Linked DNA regions of Homo sapiens: all the other regions are linked to region 6. The links come from fine-mapping of genetic effects on gene expression. A gene starts in region 6. Each other region holds a variant in brackets. All regions are shown on one strand. Distances are from middle to middle. Region 1 has its middle 19 kb from the start of ELFN1-AS1. Region 2 overlaps MAD1L1 (mitotic arrest deficient 1 like 1). Region 3 overlaps MAD1L1 (mitotic arrest deficient 1 like 1). Region 4 overlaps MAD1L1 (mitotic arrest deficient 1 like 1). Region 5 has its middle 39 kb from the start of MIR4655. Region 6 holds the start of MAD1L1 (mitotic arrest deficient 1 like 1). Region 7 has its middle 110 kb from the start of MICALL2.

The links. PIP is the estimated chance that this variant, and not a neighbour inherited with it, causes the effect.
Region 1: its variant is fine-mapped to the expression of MAD1L1 in whole blood (TOPMed, PIP 0.95).
Region 2: its variant is fine-mapped to the expression of MAD1L1 in whole blood (TOPMed, PIP above 0.99).
Region 3: its variant is fine-mapped to the expression of MAD1L1 in whole blood (TOPMed, PIP 0.98).
Region 4: its variant is fine-mapped to the expression of MAD1L1 in whole blood (INTERVAL, PIP 0.98).
Region 5: its variant is fine-mapped to the expression of MAD1L1 in whole blood (TOPMed, PIP 0.98).
Region 7: its variant is fine-mapped to the expression of MAD1L1 in monocytes after LPS (Quach 2016, PIP 0.95).

Annotation. Positions count from the first base shown.
Region 1 is chr7:1,759,277-1,763,351 of GRCh38, reverse strand. No RefSeq gene overlaps it. Among named protein-coding and RNA genes, the nearest start is that of ELFN1-AS1, 19 kb to the right of the region's middle. The variant G/C (reference allele first, on the strand shown) is at 1,956.
Region 2 is chr7:1,903,918-1,907,992 of GRCh38, reverse strand. All of the region lies in intron 17 of MAD1L1 (mitotic arrest deficient 1 like 1), which reads left to right. Among named protein-coding and RNA genes, the nearest start is that of MIR4655, 62 kb to the right of the region's middle. The variant C/T (reference allele first, on the strand shown) is at 2,114.
Region 3 is chr7:1,920,053-1,924,127 of GRCh38, reverse strand. All of the region lies in intron 17 of MAD1L1 (mitotic arrest deficient 1 like 1), which reads left to right. Among named protein-coding and RNA genes, the nearest start is that of MIR4655, 78 kb to the right of the region's middle. The variant C/T (reference allele first, on the strand shown) is at 1,526.
Region 4 is chr7:1,871,673-1,875,747 of GRCh38, reverse strand. All of the region lies in intron 18 of MAD1L1 (mitotic arrest deficient 1 like 1), which reads left to right. Among named protein-coding and RNA genes, the nearest start is that of MIR4655, 29 kb to the right of the region's middle. RefSeq lists enhancers at 1,143-2,115, 2,746-2,915 and a cis regulatory region at 2,830. The variant G/A (reference allele first, on the strand shown) is at 1,990.
Region 5 is chr7:1,802,778-1,806,852 of GRCh38, reverse strand. No RefSeq gene overlaps it. Among named protein-coding and RNA genes, the nearest start is that of MIR4655, 39 kb to the left of the region's middle. The variant G/A (reference allele first, on the strand shown) is at 2,392.
Region 6 is chr7:2,231,020-2,235,019 of GRCh38, reverse strand. MAD1L1 (mitotic arrest deficient 1 like 1) reads left to right here and starts at 2,075. Exons shown (of 19, transcript NM_001013836.2): 1 at 2,075-2,148. It overlaps MRM2 (mitochondrial rRNA methyltransferase 2), which reads left to right. Exons shown (of 3, transcript NM_013393.3): 3 at 1-825. RefSeq lists enhancers at 690-1,222, 1,957-2,086, 1,872-2,166 and silencers at 1,801-2,179, 2,157-2,576.
Region 7 is chr7:1,351,680-1,355,754 of GRCh38, reverse strand. No RefSeq gene overlaps it. Among named protein-coding and RNA genes, the nearest start is that of MICALL2, 110 kb to the left of the region's middle. The variant TC/C (reference allele first, on the strand shown) is at 2,431.

The DNA of each region.
Region 1 (4,075 bases), 470 kb after region 6:
AACCAGGCAGTGCTGGGGTCCTGCCAGTCATCATCATTATTGTTATTATTGAGACGGGATCTCGCTCTGTGGCCCAGGCTGGAATGCAGTGGTGCAATCCTAGCTCACTGCAGCCTCGACCTCTTGGGCTCAAGCAATTCTCCCGCCTCAGCTTCCTGAGTAGCTGGAACTACAGGTGCTCACCACCACGCTCGGCTAATTTATTAATTTTTTTAGAGACAGGGTCTCACTATGTTGCCCAGGCTGGTCTTGAATTCCTGGCCTCAAGCATTCCTCCTGCCTCAGTTTCCCGTAGTGTTGGGATTACAGGTGTGAGCCACCACGCCCAGCCCAGTTATTAAATGTTTTGAACATCACTCCTATCTGTCCCCATGCGGTTATTGTGAGGACAACAGGAGTCCATGCTTGTAAACTTTGGAGAGCAGGGCCTGGCACACAGCAAGGGCTCCGCGAATGTTTTTATTGTTGCGTTTCTCAGGCAGGCAGACTCTCCCCAGACCCATCCCATCCTTACAGATGGTAATTCCAGAGAAAGAAAATGCTTTCATTTCCCAACACCCATATACCCAATCTCACGGAGGGACCGACGGCCGGGCTGTGATCCATTGCTGTGGTTGGGGAGATGGAGTTCTCTGATTGGCTCCGATTGGTTCATGGCTTCACCCCTTTGGTGGGGACGGCATCCCTGGGAGTGCGAAGGAAAGAGGCTCTGAGGCCGGGGTAGTGGTTGCTGGGTAGATACTAACACACACGCACACACGTACACACACAGGCACACACATGCACACATGCACACACATATGCACACATGCACACATGCACACACAGGCACACACAGGCACACATGCACACACAGGCACACACATGCACACACGCGCGTGCACACACACAGCACACACGTATGCACACTCGCACACATGCACACGCACACACGCATGCACACATGCACACGCACACACGTGCAGACACGCACACACATGCACACACACGTGCACACACAAACACGCACGCACGCAAACGCACGCACACACAGAAAAAAAAGAAAAAAGAAAAAGAAATGTCTTCTCCACTGGGGCATATAAAAACCCACTTTGCATAAAAGGAAAGTTACGATGTTGCTGCATTGAAGACAATATTATAAAGATGTAATTTCCCTCCAAGTTAGTCTATAAATTTAAAGCAATCCCACACAAAAGCCCAGCAAGCGTTCTGCAATGTGGGATCGTGATTCTAAGGCTCATCTGAAGAATGCTCTCATGAGAACAGCAGAGAAAAATGTGGGAATAGAAAGGAATAATGAAGAGGGCTTACCCTATCAGACATTAAAATGCATCACTAGCTAAACCAGCTAAAGCAACCTGAATCTGGGGAGGAAGAGACAGATAGATCAATGAGTGAGAACGCAGGAGCCGGGAACAGACAGCACCTAGACGAGGATTTAGTGAGAGGTGGGAGTGGCGTCTCGCGTCAGTGGGTGTACAATGGATTGCTCGATAACCGTGCCGAACACCTGGTCAATCATTTGAAAGAAAATTCCAAAGCTCCCTACTTTGTATGCCAAACTGAAATAAATCCCAGAGTAGTAAATGTTTAAGATAAAAGGATATTGGGCCGGGCGCGGTGGCTCATGCCTGTAATCCCAGCACTTTGGGAGACCACAGCGGGCGGATCACTTGAGTTGAGGAGTTCGAGACCAGCCTGGCCAACATGGTGAAACCCCATCTCTACTAAAAATACAAAGATTAGCCGAGCATGGTAGTGGGCACCTGTAATCCCAGATACTCAGGAGGCTGAGGCAGGAGAATCTCTTGAACCCGGGAAACGGAGGTTGCAGTGAGCCGAGATCGCACCACTGCACTCCAGCCTGGGCGACAGCACAAGACTCTGTCTCCAAAAGAAAAAAAAAGATATCGAAAAACAAAAAGCAAATTATATATTATTTTCTATTAGGAGCA[G/C]TCTGGGTTTCTTAGTGATTAAAAATAGGGCCTGTGGAAATCTTCCAGGTGAGGCCTCTGCGGCATGGCATGGTGTGGTGCAGCTCACCCGTGCTGTGCAGAATGCCAGCGATCCATCCGTCTTCACCGCTGCCGGCGTTTAGTCTCTGGTCATATTGTAATTCGGTCCTTCCCCTGTTGGTGGACGCTTCAGTCGTTTCTATTTTTGGCTGTTGTGAATGGGACTATTATGAAATTCTGAAACAAAACAGAATCTGTAAAGACAAGAGATGGATAAATTTTGTTAAATAAGCGTTCAAAACATCTTCACATCAAAATAAACATGGGCCCATGGGCACATGCCTCGGTGCAGCTTTTGTTTTTTTCTTTTTTTTGAGATGGAGTCTCACTCTGTCCCCAAGGCTGGAGAGCAGTGGCACAATCTTGGCTCACTGCAACCTCCACCTGCCAGGTTCAAGCGATTCTCCTGCCTCAGCCTCCCGAGTAGCAGGGATTACAGGCGCCCACCACCACCATGCCCAGCTAATTTTTTTTTTTTTGTATTTTTAGTAGAGATGGGATTTCACCATATTGGCCAGGCCGGTCTTGAACTCCTGACCTTGTGATCCGCCCACCTCGGCCTCCCAAAGTGCTGGGATTACAGGTGTGAGCCACCGCACCCGGCCCTCGGTGTGACTTTTTGGTGGGTGGGGTCTGTCTGCCTGTCTGGCCCCCCAGGTCCCATAGCTGCAGGTGGCGGCCCTGCAGCCCTCCCTGGAGACTTAGCCCCTGGAGCTGCCCACCCTAATGCAATGATGTATCAGGAAGTTCGGTCCCCACCCCTGGTTGCCTGCAGTAAGTTCCTGACGGACCCAGGGCAGGGCAGATTCTGTGATTCCTTCTGTGTTGCAGAGTCCTCTGTGGGATCAGGCAGAGGCCTCATAGGGCATAGGGCATCCAAGCAGCTCAACTTCTCCACTCTCCTTCCCTGTCAGAGGAAGGGCAGGTGGAGCCGGGAACTGGCAGCGTCCTGGCCGTGCTGGTCTGCGAGGGCTGCCATAACGAACACCCCAGGCTGGCCGATTTAAACCACTGACATTTATTGCTCACAGCTCTGGAGGCCGGAAGTCCTCGGTCAAGGTGTGGCAAGGCTGATTCCTCCTGAGGCCTCTCTCTTTGGCTTGTGGATGGCCGTCTCCTCCCTGGAGCCTCACAACACCGGCCCTCTGTGGTCCGTGTTCAAATCTCCTCTTCCGGCCGGGCGTGGTGGCTCACGCCTGTAATCGCAGCACTTTGGGGGGCCGAGGCGGGAGGATCACCTGAGGTCAGGAGTTCGAGACCAGCCTGGCCAACATGATGAAACCCCATCTCTGCTAAAAATACAAAAATTAGCTGGGCATGGTGGCAGGTGCCTGTCATCAACTACTCAGGAGGCTGTGGCAGGAGAATCACTTGAACTTGGGAGGCAGAGGTTGCAGCAAGCCGAGATCGCACCACTGCACTCCAGCCTGGGCAACAAGAGCGAAACTCGTCTCAAAAACAAAAACAAACAACTCTCCTCTTCCTCCTGAGAGAACCCCCTAATCACTTGCAAAGAATTCCTGTCTCAGGCTCTGCCTCGAGCAAGCTCAGCCTAAAACAGTTAGTACCAGACGTGGCCCTGCAGACCTGAAGGATGACCTCTTGATACTGCCCCCACCCACTCGGCAGGTGGCCAGGGGGCCCCTGGTAACAGTCTTTGGCAGGCTGGGATGTTTCCTGAAAGGTAAAAGACAAGCGACGGTGCCTAGTACCTTCTACCACGAAGACAGGAGCACCGGGCTCCGTAGGCTGTGTTAGATGCAGGAGCAGATTATTCTGCGTTAGGTAAAACGGCTCTGCCACACTCATCAACAGGCATGGAAAATGCCAGGTTCAAGTGGCGCCTTGATGCAAGGACTCTGCCACAGCTCGAGGCTCAGGTCCAAGGAATCCTGCCACTTGGGCCGTTTGGCCGGCAGATCCCGTGGCGCTCCAGGCACCCGCGGTGGGTGAGTGTGCTGGGTAGGATGTCAGGCCAGGCACAGTGCAGTTCCGTAGCACAGGGCAAGACCGGAGTCCCCGAGCAGGGCCACGCCGCAGCGGGGAACCACATCCAATTC
Region 2 (4,075 bases), 330 kb after region 6:
CTGAGCTCTGGGGTCACGGGCCGCTGTCTCCTGAGGGGGCCGCACACTGCAGGGGCCAGGGCGGTCACCCTGTCTCTCCGGACCATGCTCAGGTGATCTTTTGGGTGTCCTTGCGGCCCAGACCGCACTGCCCCCTCACTCCACACCTGGACTCAGGCCCGCCACTCAGATCCCGCGCCGAGCACCCGTGATGTCCGTAGACAGCCAAGTGGTTGTTGACGACACAGGGATGTGTTTTATTAAGAGGAACACGTTATTGCCGAGAGGGTTTTCGCCTCCACTGTCTCACTGACCCGGGGGCAGGTGATGTTTCCCCCACTCCTGCCACACCCAGGGAGGAAAGGGGGCTTAGAGAGATGAGGTGACTTGTCCGTGAACGCACAGGCAGTGTATGGAGCCTGGAATCACTCCCTTCCTCCTGGCCCCGTGGCGGCGTCATCAGTGGGGCCGGGCCTACGCCGAGTAGGATTGTCCTCCTGGCTTGGCCTGGGCCTCAGGGGCTGCCTTGTTTAATGGTGAAATATTAGTCCCTTTTTGTGGGTTTTTTAAAGCCTGAAAATCCCAACATTGGTTAACTGTATTTGATTCATTGTTTAGAAAGAAAAATGGCTGTGCCGTGAGTCCCTGAAGGAAAAGTTCCGAAGCTGCCTCCAGTCCCTAAATCGAGAGTTGCTGCAGAGTCTGGGGCTTGGGGTCCTCGGTGGCAGCTGTGCAGGGCCCAGACCCAGGCCAGCTCCTCACTGGGGCACCGGTCCAGGTCGGGCAGGAGCTGGGGGACCGTGGGACAGGGGCAAGGCGGTGGCAGTGGGGAGATAGTGGGGATGGGGGCGTGGCAAGGGCTGAGCAGCTGGGAGCTGCTCTGAGGCCATGGGTGCCCTCACCGCCCCTCGCAGGCTGAAGCCCCTGGAGGCCCCTGGCTCTCACAGTGACCCTGTTAGCCACAGCAGGGATGGGGTTGGGGGCTTGGGGGCGGGGCAGTGGCATGGCCTCTCTTCGGCCTGCCTTGATTTTAAGGGCTTTTCATCTGAGGCCATGGGAAGGCTGTATGTTCAGGGATGAACACGGGTGTTCAGGGACAGACGCACACGTGTTCGGGGATAAACGGACGTTCAGCAGTAGGCGTGTGTGTCCCGTCCGCTGTGTGTGTGCTTGCTTGTGGTTAAGCTGACTGTGTAGCTTGCGCAGGGGCAGGAGCTCAGGTCTGTAGGGGATGGTGGCTTCGCTCACCTGCGTGTTCAACACGCACCCGTCGCGCACTTCCATGTTCCGGGTTCTCAGGTGCAGGGCAGGTGTGACAGTGCGCACAGGCCTGGCCCAGCCCACCTGAGCTCAGGGTGCGCCGCAGGGAAACAGCATGAGGCCCAGTTGCACTGCAGGGAAAGAGCGTGAGGCCCAGGCATCTCAAACAGCTCTGTGGACGCCACAATCTGTGCCCTGCAGGAAAAGAGCATGCGGAGAACAGGAGCCAGAGACTGGAGCGATGGAGAAGCAGGGTGCAGGAGAGGCAGCTGGAAAGGGAGGGTGGCTCAGGGCCCTGGGGCGGGGCTGGGACCAGGTCAGGCTAGGGCCAGATGCAGCTGCAGTGGCAGCCAGGCCGGGGCACCCAGCAGGGCATGAATATCCCAGGAGAGAGCCCTGCCTCAGCTCAAGTCTTGCTGTGGGAGCATGGAGATCTGTCTGCATGGCCGGGGTTATCCTGGACGGGGTAGCAGGAGCGGTGTTGGCATACACAACCGAGGCCAGCCTGGGAAGAGGCTGCTTGGGGTTCGGGGACCCTACAGAAGCACCAGGGCTGGCGTCTCTTCCTCCTGTGGGGTCTTCCCACGTGGGCCAGCTGCCTCAGCTGTGCAGGGGCTGGTCTCCTCAGGGCAGTGCTGCCTGGTGCCTGCGGGTGCTTGGTAAACAGCTAGGCCCCGGCTCTTTTTTTTTTTTTTTTTTTTTTTGAGATGGAGTCTTACTGTGTCACCCAGCGTGGAGTGCAGTGGCGCAATCTCGGCTCACTGCAGCCTCTGCTTACTGGGCTCAAGCAATTCTCCTGCCTCAGCCTCCCGAGTAGCTGGGATTACAGATGTGCGCCACCACGTCCGGCTAATTTTTGTATTTTTGGTAGAGA[C/T]AGGGTTTCACCATGTTGGCCAGGATGGTCTTGAACTCCTGACCTCAGATAATCTGCCTGCTTTGGCCTCCCAGAGTGCTGGGATTACAGGTGTGAGCCACTGTGCCCAGCCCCAGGTTCCTCTTAAAATCATCCCAGGACACAGATGGGGGTCAGGCCGGCCTCACTCACGGGAGAGGTCCCAGAGGGAGGTCACAGAGCCCAGGCCCACAGAGCTATTCCAAGCACCTGGAACAGTGCTTCACCAATCATGAATTCCACAAGAGCATCTTCCATAGGCTACTGCGTCCTCGCTGCCTGGAACAGTGCTTCATCAATCATGAGTTCCACAAGAGCGTCTTCCATAGGCCACTGTGTCCTCGCTGCCTGGAACAGTGCTTCATCAATCATGAGTTCCGCAAGAGCGTCTTCCATAGGCCACTGCGTGCTTGCTGCCTGGAACAGTGCTTCATCAATCATGAGTTCCACAAGAGCGTCTTCCGTAGGCCACTGCATCCTCGCTGCCTGGAACAGTGCTTTATCAATCATGAGTTCCACAAGAACGTCTTCCATAGGCCACTGCATCCTTGCTGCCTGGAACAGTGCTTTATCAATCATGAGTTCCGCAAGAGCGTCTTCCGTAGGCCACTGCGTCCTCGCTGCCTGGAACAGTGCTTCATCAATCATGAATTCCGCAAGAGCGTCTTCCGTAGGCCACTGCGTCCTCACTGCCTGGAACAGTGCTTCATCAATCATGAATTCCGCGAGAGCGTCTTCCGTAGGCCACTGCGTCCTCGCTGCCTGGAACAGTGCTTCATCAATCATGAGTTCCACAAGAACGTCTTCCATAGGCCACTGCATCCTTGCTGCCTGGAACAGTGCTTTATCAATCATGAGTTCCTCAAGAGCGTCTTCCGTAGGCCACTGTGTCCTTGCTGCCTGGAATAGTGCTTCATCAATCATGAGTTCCACAAGAACGTCTTCCATAGGCGACTGCATCCTTGCTGCCTGGAACAGTGCTTCATCAATCATGAGTTCTGCAAGAGCGTCTTCCATAGGCCACTGCGTCCTCGCTTGCCTGGAACAGTGCTTGATCAATCATGAGTTCCGCAGGAGCGTCTTCAATAGGCCACTGCGTGCTTGCTGCCTGGAACAGTGATTGATCAATCATGAGTTCCGCAAGAGCGTCTTCCATAGGCCACTGCGTCCTCGCTGCCTGGAACAGTGCTTCATTAATCATGAATTCCGCAAGAGCGTCTTCCATAGGCCACTGCATCCTCGCTGCCTGGAACAATGCTTCATTAATCATGAATTCTGCAAGAGCGTCTTCCGTAGGCCACTGCGTCCTCGCTGCCTGGAACAGTGCTTGATCAATCATGAGTTCCGCAAGAGCATCTTCCATAGGCCACTGCGTCCTCGCTGCCTGGAACAGTGCTTGATCAATTATGAGTTCCGCAAGAGCATCTTTCATAGGCCACTGTGTCCTCACTGCCTGGAACAGTGCTTCATCAATCATGAATTCTGCAAGAGCGTCTTCCATAGGCCACTGCATCCTTGCTGCCTGGAGCAGTGCTTCATCAATCATGAGTTCCGCAAGAGCGTCTTCCATAGGCCACTGCGTCCTCACTGCCTGGAACAGTGCTTCATCAATCATGAGTTCCGCAAGAGCTTCTTCAATAGGCCACTGCGTGCTCGCTGCCTGGAACAGTGCTTCATTAATCATGAATTCTGCAAGAGCGTCTTCCATAGGCCACTGCGTCCTCGCTGCCTGGAACAGTGCTTGATCAATCTTGAGTTCCGCAAGAGCGTCTTCAGTAGGCCACTGCATCCTCGCTGCCTGGAACAGTGCTTCATCAATCATGAGTTCCACAAGAACGTCTTCCATAGGCCACTGCGTCCTCGCTGCCTGGAACAGTGCTTCATCAATCATGAGTTCCGCAAGAGTGTCTTCCGTAGGCCACTGCGTCCTCGCTGCCTGGAACA
Region 3 (4,075 bases), 310 kb after region 6:
TCCAGCATCTCCGTCATCTTGGCGCCTGTTGGTCGTGTTTTCCCTGGCAGGTTTCTGTTTTCCCGGTTCTTTTCATGCTGCTTAATTTTAGATTGCATTCTGGATGTTTTGAATATCCCGAGATTCTAGGTCTTTCTTAAGTTCTCTGGAGAATGTAAATTTCTGTTGGTTTCAGCATTTCCTGATGGCACTTCCATTTCAGGCTCTTTGCCGAGTTTCCCAGGCCATTGAACCTTGTGTCCTCCACAGTCCTGGCTGGGTCCTGGTGTGGTCTAGCTCAGAGTCCAACTCTCACACCTGTGGGGTGCTGATTAGGGTCAGAGCCCCATGCCCAGCTTAGAGGGCACCTTCCAGAGCCACTCTGAGCACCCAGCACTTCCCAGGTGACCCAGGGTTCCCTTCACTGCCTTCTGGCCACAGAGCCAGGCAAGGCTTGCCCACTGTGCTGTGCAGTCAGTCCCACGGCCACAGCCGCCTTCACGGCCAACGCCAGCCACAGCGTTGGAACAGGGCAGGACATGCCCCACGCACCCTGTCTGGAGGGAGGGGCCCACTCTTGGGCTCTAGGCGTCTGTCCAGCTGTGGCTGTACCTCCGCAGGATTGCCCGGGTGCCGGGGCGGAAGAGCGCGGGGTTGCCCGGCTGCCGGGGCGGAAGAGCGCGGGGGTGCCAGGGTGCCGGGGCGGAAGAGCGCAGGATTGCCTGGGTGTCAGGGTAGAAGAGGATGGAGACAGACAGAATTTCCCACACTGCCTCTCAGGCTTCTCTTGACAAGCTGTGTGCGTCTTGTGCTCACTCCCAGGTTTTAGGGGTCCCCAAGTCCAGACTGGGTAGCACCAGGGCAAACACCCAACCAGTGACAGAAACTCCAGCAAGCTTCAACCACAGACTGCAGAACTCACCCAGTATGAAATAGATCGTCTCATTAATCCTAGAACCATTAAATAACTGAATCCACAATCAAAAAGCTTCCAAAAAAGGATATCTCCAGGCCCAGATGGTTTTCTGGTGAATTCTACCAAACACTTAAAGAAAACTTAGCACCAATTTGCCAAAACTCTCCAAGAAAACAGAAGAGGGAGCACTTCCCAACTCACTCTGTGAAGCAAGCATTTACCCCAACTTCAAAACCAGTGGCAAAACTGAAGAACACTGCGGGGCTATTTTCTGTTTTCTGAGAGTGCAAGGCTGGGTTGGTGTCGAGCGTCAGCTGGTACAATCCATCGCGTCAGCTCGCCAAAAGGAAAAATTACATGGCCAAACCAACGGATGCACAAATGCAGTCAGCGAGGCCCAACACACGTTCATGGGGAAACTCGGCAAACCAGGAGAAGCCGAGAACCCCCAAGTTTGCCAAAGAGCATCTGCAGAAACCGTGCAGCTCACCGCAGACCTGGCTGGTGAGGGACTGGGAAACGCCGACTCAGGCAGAGGCCTTCCCTCTCACCGCCTTGGTCCATGTCCCAGAGCCCCAGATGGGCAGCAGGGTGAGGAGGTCGAAGGCACACGGACTGGAAAGGCAGGAC[C/T]GACCCTTTTCCTCTTCACAGGTGGCGTGATTATGTCGAAAATCACAAGATAAAAACGAGTCGAGCGAGTTCACCCGGGATTTCTGTGTGTGGCTCTTGTATCCTGCAACCTTGCTGAGCTCACTTTATGAGAAATATGTCCGTGTGTCTGTGTAGTTCTGTAAATATTACACAATAGCAGTGCACATGTGGAAACCGAAATTAAAAACATGCCGTTTCTGTTCACTCTTCTGAAGATGAAATCTGCAGGCATCACTAACACCACAGCACGCCGACAACGGCAAGCTGCTGAGGCGAGGCGTGGGAGGTCTGTGTGAATGGAGACTCTGCCTTCGTGGCTCGTGGGGTGCAGCGCAGTAAAGACGCGGCGCGGCCAGGTCCAGCTGCATGTCTCTCGCAGCTGGAAGCAGGGCGCTCGCCGCTGGGCTGGTGATGCTAGTGGTTCTGGGTTCCGACCTCAGCCCGCCTGCAGCCTGTGGCTCTCCAGGTCTGTAGTCGGCTGCTGGCTGCACTCCCTCCATCGTCAGAGCTGCCTCAGGGAGAGACAGGGCTGATTGGTTTCTTCATCTTTCCCAGAACCTGAACCCCTCGTCTTCAGGTTCTCTCTTATCTGTTAATTCCGTTGCTTTTAAGCTTAGTAAGTACTTTAGTGATTTGATAAATAATTCTATTTTCTTCTGGGCTCTTTGAGCTTATTTTTATATTTAAAGATTTAATCTACTTGAAACTTATTTTGGTGTATGGTATGAGGTCGAGATCTAAATTGATTTTTTTTCCAGATCACTAAACAATTGCCCTAGGGCCATTTATCTCAGAATCCTTCCTTCCCCGTAGATTTATACCTTCATCTTTATTAAAACTTAGGCAAAATCGGGTCTGTATTCAGATCTTTTGTTTTTTTTAATTTCATTTATCCTTTTTTTTGACTTAAAGGTTTTCTTACCTGTTTATTATTCTAAGTTAATTTTAGAATTACTTTGTCACGGCCAGGCGCGGTGGCTCATGCCTGTAATCCCAGCACTGAGGCTGAGGCGGGTGGATCACCTGAGGTCGGGAGTTCAAGACCAGCCTGGCCAACAAGGTGAAACCCTGTCTCTACTAAAAACACAAAACGCCAGGCGTGGCGGGAGGGTGTCTGTAGTCCCAGCTACAGGTACTATAGATGCTGAGGTGGGAGAATCGCCTGAACCTGGGGGATGGAGGTTGCAGTAAGCCAAAATCACACCATTGCACTCCAGCCTGGGCAACAGAGATAGACCCTGTCTCCAAAAAGAAAAAAAAAAAAAGAATTAGTCAAATTCAAAAAAAAGGTATCAAGGTTTTATTTTTTACTGAAATTACACTGAAGTTATAGGTTAATCTAGTGGAAGAATCTTTGGCTTTCCAGCGTCTGTGTCTGAGCAGGGAAGGGCGCCTCAGGGCCGCCTCCCTCACCGATACCACGTCTCAGACCCGCAGCGTGCCGGGGTTCCCTTTGCAGGCTCCGGTCCAGGCAGGAGTGTGTCATCTGGGCTGCCATCTGCTGGGCAGGGGTCCTGAGTCCCCACTGCTGGCTCCAGGCCGCCTCTCCGCCCTCTTCCCACCTCCCCACCCTCTCTTTGGGTTGCCTGTCTCGTCGTCTCCAGGGCTCAGAGCCGAGCTTTGCAGGAGGAGCAGGGAACATGAATCTGCACCCTTTTCTGTCTGGACCGGATGTCCCGTGAATCTTTTTTATTCAGTCAATGAAGATTAGGGTTTTTTGCTGTCGGTTTTTAAATGGATACACAGTGTTCGTGCATCGTTATGGGGTGTAGGTGATGTTGTCTTGCATGCCCAGAATGGGCAGTGGCCACACAGGGGTATTTGGGGTATCCGTCACCTCATGGACTGGTCATTTCTAAGTGTTGGGAAGACCTCCTGTCCTCTCTTCTCACTGTTTTAAAGTAGACAGCACATGTGGCTGACTGTAGTCCGCCCCCACTCGGCTGTGGAACGTGAGGTCTTACTCCTTCCATCTGGCTGTGCGTCTGTACCCACTGACCAGCCTCCGTTCATCCCCGCCCACCCCACACCTGCACCCTCCTTCTCCCCCAACTCCATGCGATGGGTTCCCCCCGCTCCCGTGGGTGAGAGCGTGCAGCGGGTCTTCCTGTTTTAACCACTTCCCTTGGTGCCTCTGAGGAATCGCTGGGTCCACAACACAGTGTGAGGCTGCCACGGCAGCCGAGTCTCCCCGACTTTCTCTGCCCCTGCTCCTCCCACACACTGTCGCTGCTCCATCTGCAGACAACACAGCCCCGGGCGAGCTTACTGGGCAGGGTTCTGCCGAAACACAGAACTCGTAGAATGTGTGTACACACGCACATGCACACGCACGCACGCACGCACACGGAGATGCTTGTTACAGGGAGTTGGCTCACGCAATGACAGGCAAGTCCCGAGAGCTGCAGGGTTGGGGGCAAGCCGGGGACCCAGGAGCACTCATGTACTGGGGAAGGACAGGGATGCTGGGCCCACACAGCCCCGGCTTCTGACTCTGGGGGTTGCTGTCTCCTAACGCTGCTGCAGCCC
Region 4 (4,075 bases), 360 kb after region 6:
CGGTTACATCATAGATGTTCGCACACGTCTGTGCACGTGAACTACCTGTTATCTGTTGCACATGCAGCGTTACTAAACAGGGTTCCCTTATACCTCCCGGGGTTCCTGGAGTGGCGTCTTCTCTTTTGCTGGGAACCTTGCCGCCTTTCCTCTCCCTGCCCCTCCCAGCCCGTGTGGGCCACCTGCTGTGTTCCACGCCTTCCTTTCTCCTCTGCTTGTGCAGCGGAAGGTTCTGCCAGCAGGGGAGTTAGTGAGCAGCCAGTGGAGGGTGTGCCCAGCCTTCCTGCTGCAGACCCGCCCCCAAGTCAACACGGACTTCCCTCCCTGCGTGCCAGAACTTCGCGTTGTTCTTAGTGGCATCTGGGGTCGAGGAGGGCGACTGTCAGCCAGTTGGGGGATGTTTTCTTCTTGGTCTCTCGGCTTCTGCTTCCCTGTGAGCTGGGCAGCCTCAGCCCAGGTCCTATCCGGTACTCAGCTGGCCTCGGTGTGCACAGCGCAGGCTTGAGTGCAGCCGTGGGGGCGGGCAGGGCAGCAGCAGGGCCCCTGGGAACAGCTGAGTCTGAAGGGTCAGAAGCCATGGCCCCTGTGGGGGGCTCTGGGGCAGCCAGGGGAGCTGCTCGTTAGTCGTCTCTGGGGCAGAAGGAAGGGACCTTCACCTGGATTGGGACTGGGCCTGGGTCCCCAGTCTCACAGGGAGCTTGTCCTGATTGTACCTGCCCAGCCTGCCCTGCAGAGGGGAAGGAGGCCCTTGGCTCGGAGTATGCCTGCCCTGGAGCTCCCAGGCCCAGCCGGGGCCCGGGGTGGGGGCCACTCACTGGGCACAGGTGCAGGGTGCCTATGGCCAGGCCTGGGGTGTGGCCGGTCTCCATGCTGCAGAGCCGGAGGCCTCTGTGTTCTCTCCCTGCCTTCCCCTCCTCCCTATACCTGCCCCTCCTCTCTACCATCCTACCCAACCTCTCTCTCCTGGAGCCCTCCAGCCCCACCCCTCCCCGTGTACACTAAGTGCCCAGGCGGGAGGGCCTGTGGGTCCTGCTGAGCCACACAAGGCCCCAATCGAGCAGGTAGCAGGTGGTGTGCTGCGAGCTGCTTTTCCCTCCTGGGTCAATTCCTAAGCCCACCAGGCGATCGATGAAGAGCCACCTGCCTCTGGGTAATGCTGATAGGTGAGAGCCACTCAACAGCGCTTTTATTTTTTTTTTTAAGGAAGCCGCACTCAGCCACAAGCTGTGCGGAAAGCTATAGGATTATCAAGATCAAAAGGTCAGCCCTCCGCCTCCTCTCCTCCACCAGAGCCTCACCCTGGCCACGGCGGGTGCTACCCTCGATGTCACGGCCTGGCCACCGTCTTACCCCCGTCCCGGTGCTGCTGCAACGTCTCCTCCTGAGACGCTTCCCTGACCATCCCAAGCCACGGTCACCCCCTCTGTCCTCTGCACTGTGGCCCAGCCTGGCCGTGCGATGACACGGTTGTCTGCCAGTGTGTGTCACCTCCCCAAAGCTGATGCGCTGGTGGGAGACCCCGGGTCTTACCAGCCGTGCACCGAGACGGCCTCGCTGCACTGACCTCTGGCGCCAGCCACTGTCTGCTGGGCAGCCTGACCTTCGTTTTCCATCCCCACTCCGGTGCAGATGGAGAGCCTGGAACACCGTCCCGGGATCCCCGGTGGCCAGGCAGAAGCACCGACCCTAGCATGGGGTGCTCAGAGAGGCCCGCCTGTCCTCAGCCTGGGCCTGTGTGTGTTCCACGCCTCCCCACCGGAACTGACCCTGGCGTGGGGTGCTCCAAGAGGCCCTCTGGCCTCAGCCTGGGCCTGTGTGCTCCACGCTTCCTCCCTGGTGCCGACTTGATGGGCTCAGCATCCATTCTCGTTCAGCCACGGGGAGCAGTTTCAGGGCCAGGAGTCCCTCAGCATCTGGAGGCAGGATAAGCCCTGCCTGCTCCCCAAACACACGTCTCCCCACTGGGCTTCAGGGCCAGCTTGGGCTTCG[G/A]TGGGGGTGTCCATCAGGGGTGAGCTGCGGCCCTTGTCAGGGCACATCCTGCACCCGGGGTGCCCACTCCCCCATGGTGGTCGGGGGTTACAGTGAGGGAGGCAGCAGTGGGCAGCTGGTGTGTCCCCTGCCAGGATCTCCCACTACCCCTCCATCCACCGCAGAGCCCCCTGCCCAGCCCCAGAAGAGCCCCTTGGCCCCCATCCGTAGAGAGCCCAGGTGCTTTGCCCGTACCCCTCAGCACTGTCCAGCCCCGGCCGTGCCGTGCTCCTACTAGCTCTCCACCAGGGCTCCCCACCTGCCCCTCCCCACCGCCCCTCGCATCCTCCAGGACTCAGCCCAAATGCCACCTTCCTTGAGGCCTCCCCAACCTCCTCCCAGAGCCCTGCCCCTGCTCCCACCCTCTTGCTGTAATTACAACCCCATTTAGGGCTGGCGCTCTCTAGCCCATTGAGGCCCCAGGACAGGACCCGGACTCGCGCCCCAGCCCGTGAGGTCCAGAGGGGACTCCCCAGCCGGGGATGGGGCCTGTGAGCCAGGCTCCCTGCACACATTTACGGTGGGGGTCAAGGCCCCCCTTATGAAAAGGGACACTGAGGCAGGAGAGGCTGCACCAGAATTGGAACCGGGCCCACCAGCCCCACGGGGGGCTCCTCCCCGCTCCTCCACGGCTCGGCATGCAGCCCTTCCCTGTGTGACTCGTTGCGTCATTGCTGGGCTGGGCCCTTTCTTCTCTCCGTTTCTCACCTGGGGATAAAGTCCCCAAAGTGGGATTTCTGGATTAAAGATCACGGCCATCTCTCTCTCCGTGACAGTTTCCGGCTTTCTCTCCTTCTGACGCGCCCCCCACCCTGGGTGTTTGAATTGACTGGAAGCGTTGACGTTTTATTGACGTCCATCGCGGTGTCCTCTCCAAACAGAACGATCCTCACTGTGGAGTTCGATCTCAGCACACAGAAGGCTCGGAGCTGGCTTTTCATTCCTGTGTTTATTCGTTCAGCAAGCGTTTCTCCATATCACCCGTGTCTGGCCCTGTGCTGGGGGCAGATGAGAGAGGCACGGTCCAGTGCCCAGGAGTCCGCAGCCAGGAGGACAGCCCTGGAGACCTGCCCGTGTGAGTGTGAGCCGGCGGGAGCAGAGAGCGGCCTCTGCCCTGGGCTGCGTCCTGGAGGTGATTTTCAGCCTGGATCCTGTTCTGGAAAGAAAGGCCTCTCGTTCAGCTGAGCCCAGTTCGGTGTCGCAGGCGACTGTTGGATGCCAGACATGGGCTAGACATGAACAGGAGGAGCTGCCTGCCCTGAGGCTCAGGGCCTGGGAGCAGAGACAGACGGGGAAGCCGCAGCGCAGAGGGTGAGGGCTCACCCAGGAGCAGGTGCTGTGGGGAGGCCTGGTGCACCTGGACCAGGGGCCTCACTTCCTGGGGCTCAGGGCCATCGGCCAGGCCGCTGGGCATGACCTGTCATCTGGGAAACGGTGCGGCAGCCCCAGTGTGGCCCCGATCCTCTCTATAGAGTGTTTGAGTCCCAGGCCTGCAGCACCCCGTGGGGCTCACAGTGTGCATGTCTGACCCTGCAGGCAGCCCTGCGGGGTAGGTGTCAGCCTCTCTGTCGCGGGACAGGGGACAGAGGGAGCGCAGATGGCCTGCAGGGTGTGGAGGAGGCTCCCCAAGGCCTGGGGCCTGGACTGGGCTGTTTGGGCCTGTATCTGTCAGCAGGAGCTGCCGCCTGGGAGTCATGCTGGAACACAGCAGAGCCTGGAGATGAGAGGTCTTCATCCTGTCTCTCCCTCCCTCTGCTTTCTCTGTCCTGTGGGCTCTGAGCCACCGTAGTTCTGCCCCCTCTCTTCTCATCTCCTCCACCCCCAAGTGTGGGGACCCTAGACCCTGTCCCCTCCATGTCCCCTCCACATCTCCTCTGGGGCTCCGAGCTGCTGGCCCTCCGGGGAAGCCTGCACCGCCATCACAGGTGCAGGAGTTCAGAGTGGCAGGCGTATGTTGGGTTCAGCGTGGCAGGCGTATGTTGGGTTCAGCGTGGCAGGTGTATGTTGGCTTCAGCGTGGCAGGTGTTATGTTGGGTTCAGCGTGGCA
Region 5 (4,075 bases), 430 kb after region 6:
CTGTCCACGCCATTATGTTCCTCCAGAAGTGTGGTTTCAACGGCCGCCAAGAGCCCCACTGACTGCCTTAAATATCTGATTCCCCCTTTTTGTCAGGAAATTCAGTTTTTCCCTTTCGTTATGATTATTTCTCAGCAGTCACCTCTAAGCCACGAGCCCCCCGACCTCCAGCCCATGCCTTACAGGAGCCTCCCGGGAGATCGCCAGGGAGCGGGAGGAGGCTTGGAGGCTTCAGCTGAGTTGCTTTTTCCCAATTCACTCCCGGAGTGGGCCCCCAGGTTGCAGAAGAGAAACCGAGGCTCAGGGAGACCAGCAACACAGCCATACAGTGGTGGTCACTGAGAGCGGGAGAAATGTACGTGGGAAGGAGACGGAGTTTGTAGTTTAAAGAAAAAGCACTGGCCAGGCACGGTGGTTCATGCCTGTCATCCCAGCACTTCAGGAGGCCAAGGCGGGTGGATCACTTGAGGTCAGGAGTTCGAGACCAGCCTGGCCAACACGGTGAAACCCTGTCTCTACTAAAAATACAAAACTTAGCCAGGTGTGGTGGCACATGTCTGTAATTCCAGCTGCTTGGGAGGCTAAGGCACAAGAATTGCTTGAACCTGGGAGACAAAATTTGCAGTGAGCCGAGATCACGCCACTGCACTCCAGCCTGGCTGATGGAATGAGACTGTCTCAAAAAAAAAAATTAATTAATGAAAAATAAATAAATTAGCTGGGTGAGGTGGCACATGACTGCTATCCCAGCTACTTGGGAGGCTGAGGCAGGAGAATTTTTTGAACCCAGAAGATGGAGGTTGCAGTGAGCCAAGATCGCACCATTGCACTCCAGCCTGGGCGACAGAGCAAGACTCTGTCTCAAGAAAAGAAACATGGCCAGGTGCAGTGGCTCACACCTGTAATCCCAGCACTTTGGGAGGCCGAGGCGGGCAGATCACCTGAGGTCAGGAGTTCAAGACCAGCCTGACCAACATGGTGAAACCCCATCTCTACTAAAAATACAAAAATTAGCCAGATGTGGAGGCGCGAGCCTGTAATCCCAGCTACTCGGGAGGCTGAGGCAGGAGAATCGCTTGAACCCGGGAGGTGGAGGTTGCGGTGAGCCGAGATCACGCCACTGCACCCCAGCCTGGGCGACAAGAGCAAAAAAACTCCATCTCAAAAAAGAAAAGAAAAGAAAAGAAAAACATGCAGTCGTGAACCCACCACTCCATCATACCCCAAAACCCTCCCACCCTCTGACACTGGGTTTTTTTTTTTTTTTCTTTTTTCCCCCAAGACGGAGTCTCGCTCTGTCACGCAGTCTGGAGTGCAGTGGTGCAATCTCTACTCACTGCAACCTCCACCTCCCAGGTTCAAGCAATTCTCCTGCCTCAGCCTCCCAAGTAGCCAGGACTACAGGCGCACACCACCACACCCAGCTGATTTTTGTATTTTTAGTAGAGACGGGGTTTCACCATGTTGGCCAGGCTGGTCTTGAACTCCTGACCTCGTGATCTGCCCGCCTTGGCCTCCCAAAGTGCTGGGATTACAGGTGTGAGCCACCACGCCCAGCTGGCACTATGCTTTTAAGTCCTGGGAATAACTTGTAGTGTGTGCGTCCCCCCAGGCTGCCGCAACAACATCTCATAGACCAGGCTGCTTACAAACAACAGAAATCCATTTCTCTCCGTCCTGGAGGCTGGAAGGCAAAGATCAAGGTGCGGGCTAGTTCAGTTCCTGGGGAGGCCTCTTTGTGGCTTGTGAGTGGTGTCTTTTCCCATGGCTGGGAGGGAAGGAAGGGGGAGAGGGAAAGAGGAGGAGAGAGGAAAGAGCTCTCTTCTTATAAGGCCACAGTCCTATCAGATCAGGGCCCCACGCTTAGGACTTCATTCAACCTTAATCACGTCCTTAAAGCCTTATCTCCAAGCACGGTCACACGTGGGCTGGGGCTGCACCGTGGATTTGGAGAGCGCGCAATTTGGTCCATAGCACGTTTAGCTATGTGATTTAAGCACATTTAGCTTGTGATTTTAATATTTAGAAGTATTTGATTAAAGTCTGTAATCAATACTTAAATACCTGGGAAATGTTATTGGTTAATTTTTTAAATTGGGATTCATTAATTGTGCAATTGTGTTTAAATACTTAGGGACATAGACTTAGGAGGTTTGTAAGGCGAGTGAACTGATCAGGAGACAAGCAGAGACAGGCGGGAGGGCGTTTCCGCATACGCAGGAGCCCCCTGGAGATGAAAGATCCCGGAACAGAGACGCGAGGAGGCGCTTTCGTCAGAGGCCTTCCAGCCAGACCAACTCCATCTTGAACAGGGGCTGGGAAAAATGGGGCTGAGACCTGCGCGGCTGCAGCCCAGGAGGCTGGGTGTTCCTCGTCACAGAATGACACAGG[G/A]GGTCCCAAGACACAGGACACAGAGACCCCGCTGATAAAACAGGACGTGGCTAAGAAGCTGGCCAAAGTCCACCAAAACCAAGATGGCGACGGACGTGACCTCTGGTCATTATTGACAAGATGCGACGGACATGACCTCTGGTCATCCTCGATGCTCATTATGTGCTAATTATAATACAGTGGCATGCTAAGAGACACTCCCACCAGCGCCACCACAGTTTACAGATGCCATGCGGACGCCTGGAAGTTCCCCTCTATGGTCTAAAAAGGAGAGGAACCCTCAGTTCCAAGAACTCTCCGCCCCCTTTCCTAGAAAGCTCATGAATAATCCACCCCTTGTTTTGCATATGTTCAATAAATTACCATAAAAATAGCCAGCCGGCGGCCCCGGCAGCTCTGCCTATGGAGTGGTTACCCTTTTGTTTCTTGACTTCACTAATAAACTTGCTTTCATGTGACGCTATGGACTCGTCCTGAATTCCTGTGTGAGGTCCAAGAACCCCCTCTTGGGGTCTGGATCGGGACCCCTCTCCGGTAACAGTTTGTGACAGAGCAGGAGTTTTCCCATCTTGGACAAATACCACCATTCTAAAGTTCACTTTGATCAAAAGCCGCCTACATCCAAAGGGCATCAGCCTAATGGCTAAGGTCAGCATGACCATAAACCACAAATAACATCTCCGTCCAGAAACATTCCAAACCCCTCCCCAACCAGAGATACGCCAGCCCTGAGATAACCCCCCTCCAGCCGGAAAGAAGTCAGCCCACAGACAACCTGCCCTCCTCCCAGAGACATTCCAACCCCACCATAAAACTTCTGCCCCACACAGAAACATTCCAAACTTGTGATAAGCCCCCTCACCCTAAAACCAATATATACCCTTACTCTGTAAGAGAGAGCGCTCCTGACTGGGTGTGGTGGCTCACACCTATAATCCCAGGACTTTGGGAGGCCAAGGCGGACGGATCATGAGGTCAGGAGTTTGCGACCAGCCTGGCCAACATGGTGAAAACCCATCTCTACTAATAATAAAAAAATTAGCTGGGCGTGGTGGCGGGTGCCTGTAGTCCCCACTACTCGGGAGGGTAAGGCAGGAGAATCACTTGAACCCGGGAGGCAGAGGTTGCAGTGAGCCAAGATCACGCCACTGCACTCCAGCCTGGTCGACAGAGCAAGACTCCATCTCAAAAAAAAAAAAAAAAAAGAGCACTCCTGACCAAAAATCGGCCAGAAGCCCCTCTCTGGTTTATTCCTCCAAAATAAACCTGTCTCTGACTGTTGGGCTGCTTTTTGTGTTTCTTTCCTCTTTGTGTATATCTTAGAGTTTGTCCCATGTAGAGGGTGTGAAGCCAGGTCTCTCTTGCAGGCTGCTGGCCCAGTGTGACCTGGAGTCAGGCAGAAGCTGAATTTCTCTGCTAGAGTGAGCACCATCTCCACCCCCAGCCAGGGACTCCAGAGAGGCCTCGGATGTCACAAAACAAGTCATTCTCCTGGGCTGTCCCCACACCAGCCACTGGCCATCTCCTCTGTTCAAGCCACCAAGGGGCTCCTGAAGCCCGGTTTCTAGTTTAGGGATGAGTGATCGGAAAAACTTTAAGTGACCAAGAAAACTGCTGCTGAAAGATGCCGTCTGTGCAAGGTAAACATGGTGACGTGAGAGTGGGGGACAAGGCAGGGATTTGA
Region 6 (4,000 bases):
GATGGAGCAGGACAAGTGGGGAGTCTCTCTCTCTCTTTCTCTCTCTCTCTTTTTAACCAAAAAGAGATGACAAAACTAAGTTCAGGGGCCATGGAAAATGAAAAAGTCCGCTATATTGTGATTTGGGAAGAGAAAGTTATCAAGAGAAAGAGGTGAGGATGGAAGGATGGAGAAAAACAGACTGTGGGAAGGATCAGAAGGAATCCGCCGAGGCAGGGATGGGTGTGCCCATGTGTGCCTTGACGGGACTTCATCTTATAGACTGTTAAACTGTCACACACAAACAGGCTTTCCACCCCTGCTCTGAGAGCACCACGCACAGATTTCCAGTTCTTAGTGTGGCTGTTTAAAGTAGAAAATCTGGGGGCTGGGTGAGGCCACTCATGCCTGTAAACCCAGGGCTTTAGAAGGCTGAGGCTGGGGGATTGCTTGAAGTCAGGAGTTCAAGACCAACCTGGGCAACATAGCAACACCCCCCATGTCTACAAAAATGAAAAACCAAAAAGCAAACCAAAAGAAAAATCTGAAATTTCCATCTGGGGATTAACTTCTGTCTTTCTGGTGAACAATATAGCAATTCACGCATTCTTCAAGCAGCAAAAGTTCCCGGAACAATTAGGGAAGACGTATGGTCTGAATTTATCCAGGCAGTGGGTCTGCTTTGGTTTTTGCTGGAAATTTATATCAGTGTCTGGGCTCCCAAGAACATAAATGTAATTGCCAAAGCAAGCAGTGATGTGGTGTGTTTATTTTCTTTTACTCATCTAGGAACTTGACGCAGCTTTATATTTAATAAAATAATAGAGATTGCATTATTTTAAGGTACTTTCATGCTTTGAAGTTTTGTTTTTTTTAAACTGGCTTCCTCAAAGCCATTTCCTGGAGGTGTACTCATCCCTCAAGAAGAGTTTGTTGACTATGATTAAATTCCAAGGACCAGTGGGGGAAGTCTGGAAACCCAGGAATCTCCATCAGGAATCTGGGGCTCTGTCCAGCTCCCCGAAGGAAACTGCGGGTCAGATGTTTTGATTTTTTTTTTTCTTTGAGAAACAGAATCTCACTCTGTCACCCAGGCTGGAGTGCAGTGAAGTGATCTTGGCTCACTGTAAGCTCCACTTCCCGGGTTCACGCCATTCGGCCTCAGCCTCCCGAGTAGCTGGGACTACAGGCGCCCATCACCACGCCCGGCTATTTTTTTTTTTTTTTTTTGTATTTTCAGTAGAGACGGGGTTTCACCGTGTTAGCCAGGATGGTCTCGATCTCCTGACCTCGTGATCCGCCTGCCTCGGCCTCCCAAAGTGCTGGGATTACAGGCGTGAGCCACCGCGCCCGGCCGCCAGATGTTTTGACTTTTCATTTTATTTCTGGTTGCAGTCAGGTTGTTAAGTCCAGGGACTCTTGCCCTACTCCACCTCGTTCTCTTATTCCATTTCATTCCCGGGGCACACAACTTGGAAGTCTTTCTCTGAAAGAAGGAAAATTCATTGCAGACCCTTAGGAACAGCATCTTCTTAGAGGGAAGCCAGGGGCTGGGCAGAGACGGGAGGAGGAGAGGAAGAGAATATGGAAACGAGTAAGGCACACTCTTCTCAGGAAGGCTCCAATTTGAAGGATAGACAAAGGTTACCATAATAATGGTGGGGCCTGACCTCACCCCATTGGATGCTGTGCCCTGGCTTGCAGAGCACTGGGAAGGTAGCCTAGTAGCATAAATTGCATTTCTAGTGGGCCCAGAAAAAAGCAAAATAACGGATTGATTCAAGCTGATACTGAGTAGCAAAATTTTGGGAAGAGTCAACGGTGCAAGTTTGTCCGAGGAGGCTGCCGTGGGCGCGGCTATTCCACACATTACGGCGCGAGGCGAAAGCCTTAGTGGAAGCGCGTCCTGCGCAAAGCCGGGGGGCCCCCGACTGCGCCTTGGCTCAGCCTTCGGTTCCGAGTCCTTTCCGTGCGGAGTCTCCCAGGGGTGGCGGCTCCGGGTGCGGACGCGGAGTCCCCAGGATCAGCCGGTGCGCAGACTCGGTTCTTTACGGCCCGATTGCCACGCAGGTCTCGCGAGAGCGCAGGCGCAAGTGTCGCGATAAATGGGCGCCGGCGGAGCGGAGGGAGATCCGAGCGGCGGCGGCAAGCTGGCTGCGAGCGGCTGAGGTAAGCGGCCCGGCTCGCGCGGGCGGCGGGGTCCCGGGGTCCCGGGGGTCCCGGGAATGGCAAGGGAGGGGCCGAGGGCCCGGACCGGGTGTGCTCGCCAGGGTGGGGCACAACGACCCAGACCCCGTGCCTCAGGACCCCGCGCCCGCCCCGTCTCCCATGGGCGCGCTCTCCTCTCTGTGCTCTCCCCTCCTCTCCCCACTCCCCTGTCCCCACTCCCCCTTTGGGCTGTGCTGGGGACAGCGGGCCCCTCGCCTGGGTCTCCGCAGCCGTCCCTTGTGCCAGGGCGGGCGGCCGAGGGGCGCGTGCTCGTGGTCCCAGCCCCGGGGTCCCGCTGCCTACCGTGTGGGTCCCCGGGCTAGGGTGCCGGCGCGCCGAGGAAGGGGCCTGAGCTGGCGCCTGGTGGAGAAGTCGGGGCTGCAGGGGCTCTTGGCATCCTGGTGGCTCGCGCCGGTCCGCTCTCAGGAAGGGGGCGTGTGGGCCCGGTTTCCCCTCGGGGATGGCAAGGGCCACCCTGATCTCGTTTGGGCAATGGAGGAATTGGGCTGTGGAGCCTCCTTCCAGGCGGGCCTGCCTCTGCGGGGCTGGCAGCCTGGGGAGCTCAGGCCTCTGCTTGCACCAGGCCAAGGTTCTTGTTAAATGGAAACTCAGAAACTGTGCAGCTGCAGAAGTTCTACCTTTGGCTTTTAAACGCGCTTGGCTGTTCCCTAGTTGTGGCTGGTGGGCCGGCCTGCCATGAGCCCATAGTAAGCGCCGGTGTTGGGGGTGCAAAGTTCTTTACTGCGGTTTGTCTTCAGCCTTCCAAAGCCAGACAGACCCAAGTTCCAATCTCCGTTCTGTAACTTTTTGAAGCTTCGGTTTCATCATCTCTAGAATCTGTGTAAAAAGACCTAATTCACCACCCTGTTGAGACTGAGCTTACAAATATAGTGCTGGTCAACCTGCAGCCGTATTCCCATCATCTAGCGGTGGAAGACTTGAGGGATATTGGCCCCGTTCCCCACAACTTTGCAAGTAGATTTCACTGTCATGAGTTTACAGATGAGGAAACTGAAGTTCAAGAAGTCTCGGTGCTCGGAAATGTCAGATACCTTTCTTTCTGATACCTAGTTGAAAATAGTAGTAGTACTTATTAATGTCACTAGAAATAAACAATGAAAATGAGCACAGCTGTGATGATCATCATCTTTACTGTCACTGTTGCATGCCTCGTTTCTGATTCCCAGAGGCCAGATTTTTTTTTTAATTAATTATTATTATTTTTTGAAACGGAGTCTTGCTCTGGCACCCAGGCTGGAATGCAGTGGCGCGATCTCAGTTCACTGCAACCTCCATCTCCTGGGTTCAAGAAAATCTCCTGTCCCAGCCTCCGGAGTAGCTGGGATTACAGGTGCACGCCACCACATCTGGCTTTAGTAGAGATGGGGTTTCACCATGTTGGCCAGGCTGGTCTCGAACTCCTGACCTGTGGTGATCTGCCCATCTTGGCCTCACAAAGTGCTGGGATTACAGGCATGAGCAACAGTGCCTGGCTTATGTTTATTTATTTATTTATTCATTCATTTATTTATTTTGAGACACTGTCTCACCCCGTTACCCAGGCTGGAGTGCAGTGGTGCGGTCTCAGGTCACTGCAACCTCTGCCTCCCAGTTTCAAGCGATTCTTGTGCCACAGCCTCCTGAGTAGCTGGGATTACAGGCGCACACCACCACACCCGGCTAGTTTTTGTATTTTATTAGAGGTGGGGTTTTGCCATGTTGGCCATTCTGGTCTTGAACTCCGGACCTGCCTCCGCCTCCCGAAGTGCTGGGATTAGAGGCGTGAACCACCCTGCCTGGGCAAGAGGCCAGA
Region 7 (4,075 bases), 880 kb after region 6:
GTTGTGCCAGCAGGAGGAACAGCCATGCAGGGTCACAGAGGAGCCAGTGGCTGCCACGGGCTGCAGTGGGGAGCGAGGCTGGCCAGGCCCCAGGAGCCTCGCAGGGTCCAGGGTGTCCTATCTAAGTGCAATGGTCAGTCACTGCCATGGGGCTGACTCGGGCTGACGGAATGAGATTGGTGCATAGAAAACTTCCCTCCGGCCTCGGCAGACGGATTCCAGGCTTCCCTCATGCCAGAGGGGCCGCAGGGGTGTAAGGGAAGCGGCTGGAGGTGGGTGCATGGAGCTCAGGAGGGAGCCAGGGGCCATCTGGCTGCAGGGTCAGGTGGCCAGGCTGTTAGTGGGGCCGTGGAGGGAGAAGAGGGTTTGGAGGGCATCCCTGCCAAGCCCTCCTAGGCCTGGTGTCCAGGGTGAGGGTCAGTGTGACACCGCCCATCCGCAGGCCTTCCCTCCCGCCTGCACCGCGCCCACCTCACCCACCTCACCATGCCGCAGCTAACACTGTCAGCTGGTAATTGTCCTGGTCCCTTTATCCTGCGCTTTAATAAATAATTTACCTGAATTATTCACATGGAAATTTCAACATTATTAAAAATTAACCAACTTAAATGAGTCCATGGTAAATAGCTGGGTGGCTCTTCCCAGGCTGGATGCCGAAGACCGGGACGGGGGCAGCCCCGAGGGGAGGGGCGGCAGGTGCAGGGCAGGTGAGCAGGGGGTGGGGATAGGCGGGCCTGCGGGGCCGACAGGGCCAGACCCACCCTTGGGAGCAGCCCCAAGGCAGCTTGGAGACAGAAGCCCTGTGCCCCTGACCCCTCACAGTCTGGGCAGCCTCAGGAAAGTATGCACCGCTCTGGGCCATTCGTGCAATGGGATGGCCCCCACTTGCTCAGAGGACTGTGGAGAGGGCCGGGCGAGGAGGGTAACCAGGGGCAACGTGGGATGGTGAGCAAGGAGCCTGCTTCCGTCTAGAAAGCAAATGCACTCTCCCGCCTGGCTGGGCCATGCACGGAAGTGCTTCCCGGCTCAGTGGGCATCAGCAGAGGAGCTCCCTGGGCATGGTGGGCCGTCCTGGGTATGGGGCGTCCTCAGCACCTGCAAGGCCTGGACACAGAGTGCTGAGCAAGGGGTGAGGGAGCTGATGCTTTGCTATAACCGTTTCCCAAGCATTTTCCTTAACATCTCTGCACAGAATGGCACCCCAGCGCCTGCGTCACTGAAGTCAACGTCCTGTGCAGCTTTATTCATTGTGATTAAAGGGTGGAATTGAAGGGTGCTAGGCTTTGGGGAAACATTCTAGATATCTAAACTAGTTGCTGTTTGCAAAATCGTCTTCACCAAACAGAGGTGCTGGGTGCAAATGATTTGGGGTCGGCGTGGCGCCTATGGACAGGGCAGCGGAGAAACCGTACTTGCCCGGTGAGCTGCAGAGGCCTGGGCTCAGAGAGCCTCGCCGGGAACCTGCCCCTGCCTGCACTGTCACCAACACCATGGCCATACAGGATCCCCGACAGGCCTGTGCCTCAGGCACCTCCATGTCGCAGGTGACAAAGCTTAGACACAGGAGGAAACAGATTGCCCTGCAAGGAAACGAGCCAGGGTTTGGACACAGGTGGCTCACGCCTGTAATCCCAGCACTTTGGGAGGCTGAGGCGGGCAGATCATTGGAGGTGAGTGAGAAGTTCAAAACCGGCCTGGCCAACATGGTGAAACCCCGTCTTTACTAAAAATACAAAAATTAACTGGGTGTGGTGGCGGGCACCTGTAATCTCAGCTACTCAGGAGGCTGAGGCAGGTGAATCGCTTGAACCCAGGAGGCAGGGGTTGCAATGAGGTGAGATTACACCACTGCACTCCAGCTTGGGTGACAGAGTGAGACTCTGTCTCAAAAAAAAAAAAAAAAAAAAAAGCAAAATTAAAAATGTGTAGTTGGCCAGGGACAGGGCCCGAGGTTCTGCATTTGTGACCAACTAGAGCAGAATAAGACAAGGTCTTGTTGATGGTGGCCGCTCCATGGCCCACATTTAAATCATGCCCTTTATCCCACCATATCCCGAGTCCCGAATCCAGCCCACGGCCACAGGGTGCTGTCTCTGCACACCACTCCCATCTCCTTCAGCCTGGGACCCTCAGCCTTTCTTCATCTTTTCTGCAATTAACATTTTCAAAAAGTCCAGGCAGGATATTTGTAGAATGTCCATCAATTCGGGTTTGTCTAACGTTCCTCTCGATTTCAATTTATTTTTATTATTATTTTGTTTTGAGACGGGGTCTTGCTCTGTTGCCCAGGCTGGAGTGCAGTGGCACAATCTCAGCTCACTGCCACCTCCACCTCCTGGATTCAAGCGCGTCTTCTGCCTCAGCTTCCCGAGTAGCTGGGATTACAGGCGCACACTACCATGCCCGGCTTATTTTTCTACTTTTTTTTTT[TC/C]TTTTTTTTTTTGTAGAGACGGGATTTCACCATGTTGGCCAGGCTGGTCTTGAACTCCTGACCTCAGGTGATCTGTCCACCTCGGCCTCCCAAAGTGCTGGGATGACAGGCGTGAGCCACCGCGCGCGGCTGACAGTTGATTTTTTTGGAAACCCCAGGTCTGCTGTTCAGAGCCCAGTGGGTGGGGAAGGCGGTGGGCAGGGGACATGCCGCGCGGAAGCTGCTGCGGGGTCTCCTGCCCGCCGCCGCCACCCAGGCCGAGGTGCAGACGGAGGATTTAATTGAACAGGGCAGTCACACCTCACCTGGAGCGCCTCACAACCCTTTGGGGTGGAGGAGAGGCTCCTTCACCTGCCTCGAGCCTGACTTGAAGTTAATAAAATCCCGGCCAAAGGATGACCTCGAAGCCGGTTCCCTGTCCTCCTGAAGGCCGCGGCAAGGCCCCTCATAAAAGGTTATTAAGGAAAGTAAATAACTCAGCCTGTGGGGGAGGCTTCCTGGCAGAGGCATTGGGGGCCCTGGGAGAAGGCGAGGGCCTGGACCTGTGTGCCGGTGGCCGAGAGTGATGGGGGCCTGGGCCCTGCCTGTAGCTATCCATGTAGGGAGGGGTGGGGTAGGGTGGGCGGTGGCTGCCCAGATTCCTCTTGGAAGCTCTGGTTATAAACCTGAGCATAGAATGTACAGGTTGGGGCAAACGTGGGCTCCTTTGGGGCCCTCTGGGGTTTACATCCCTCTGGGACGCAGCGGGAGCTTAGCCTGGGGAGGTCCTGGCCCTGTACTGGGGGCATGGTGTGGAGCTGGGGGCGGGGGCCTGCACCTGTGGGGCCGCTGCACTGGCTCAGCACGTCGGGCGTGCGTGTTAGGGCAGGAGGCCCGGCCGCAGCGGCTCCCCTGCTCAGGGAATGGCCTCTTCTCTCTTTGGAGTTTGAGGCCCCAAAGGCCTCAGGGGCAGCATTAGGGTCTTGTCCTAAAGGACTCTCCAGGAGCTGTGGGTTGGGATCCCGTGGGAGGCCCGTATGCTGCCCAGGGGACTGGGGACTCCCCTGTGTGACTTGCAGGGCAGAGACAAACCCTCAGTACCTTCCAAGCCTCTGTGTGCTCACCTACAGGTGGGGATGGTCAGCAGAGACGCGGGAGGGAGCAAACTGGAAAGCGCGGCACCCATCGGGGTCGGCAGCCATAGCTCATGGGACGCAGGATGGACGCCCTGAGCCTGGGCGCTGAGCCGCCATCTGCTCTGGGCCAGCTCGGTCAGCCCCGAGTCCCCCTGCAGATCTTGGCTCACCACAGCCGAGGGCCTCCAGGCCTGTCCCGAGACCACCAGGAATGGGCCCCTCCCAGCCTCCAGTGGCCGGGCAGCTTGGGTGGCCCCAACTGAGGGCCAGGGGACTCCAGCGGCTGTGGCCTTTCCCTCAGCTGCCCCTCGCCCCCACCCCCTACTAAGATTTCAAAACTTACTACAAAGCTGCAGTAATGAACACAGTGTGGTCCTGGGGTAAAGACACGCATGCAGATTAAGGGAATAAAAGAAAATTCAGAGACCAGAAATAAACACACTCGTTCACTGATTTTTTCCAACAAGGGCATTCAATGGGCGTTTTCCACAGACGGTGCTGGGACAACTGGACGTCCACAGGCAAGAGT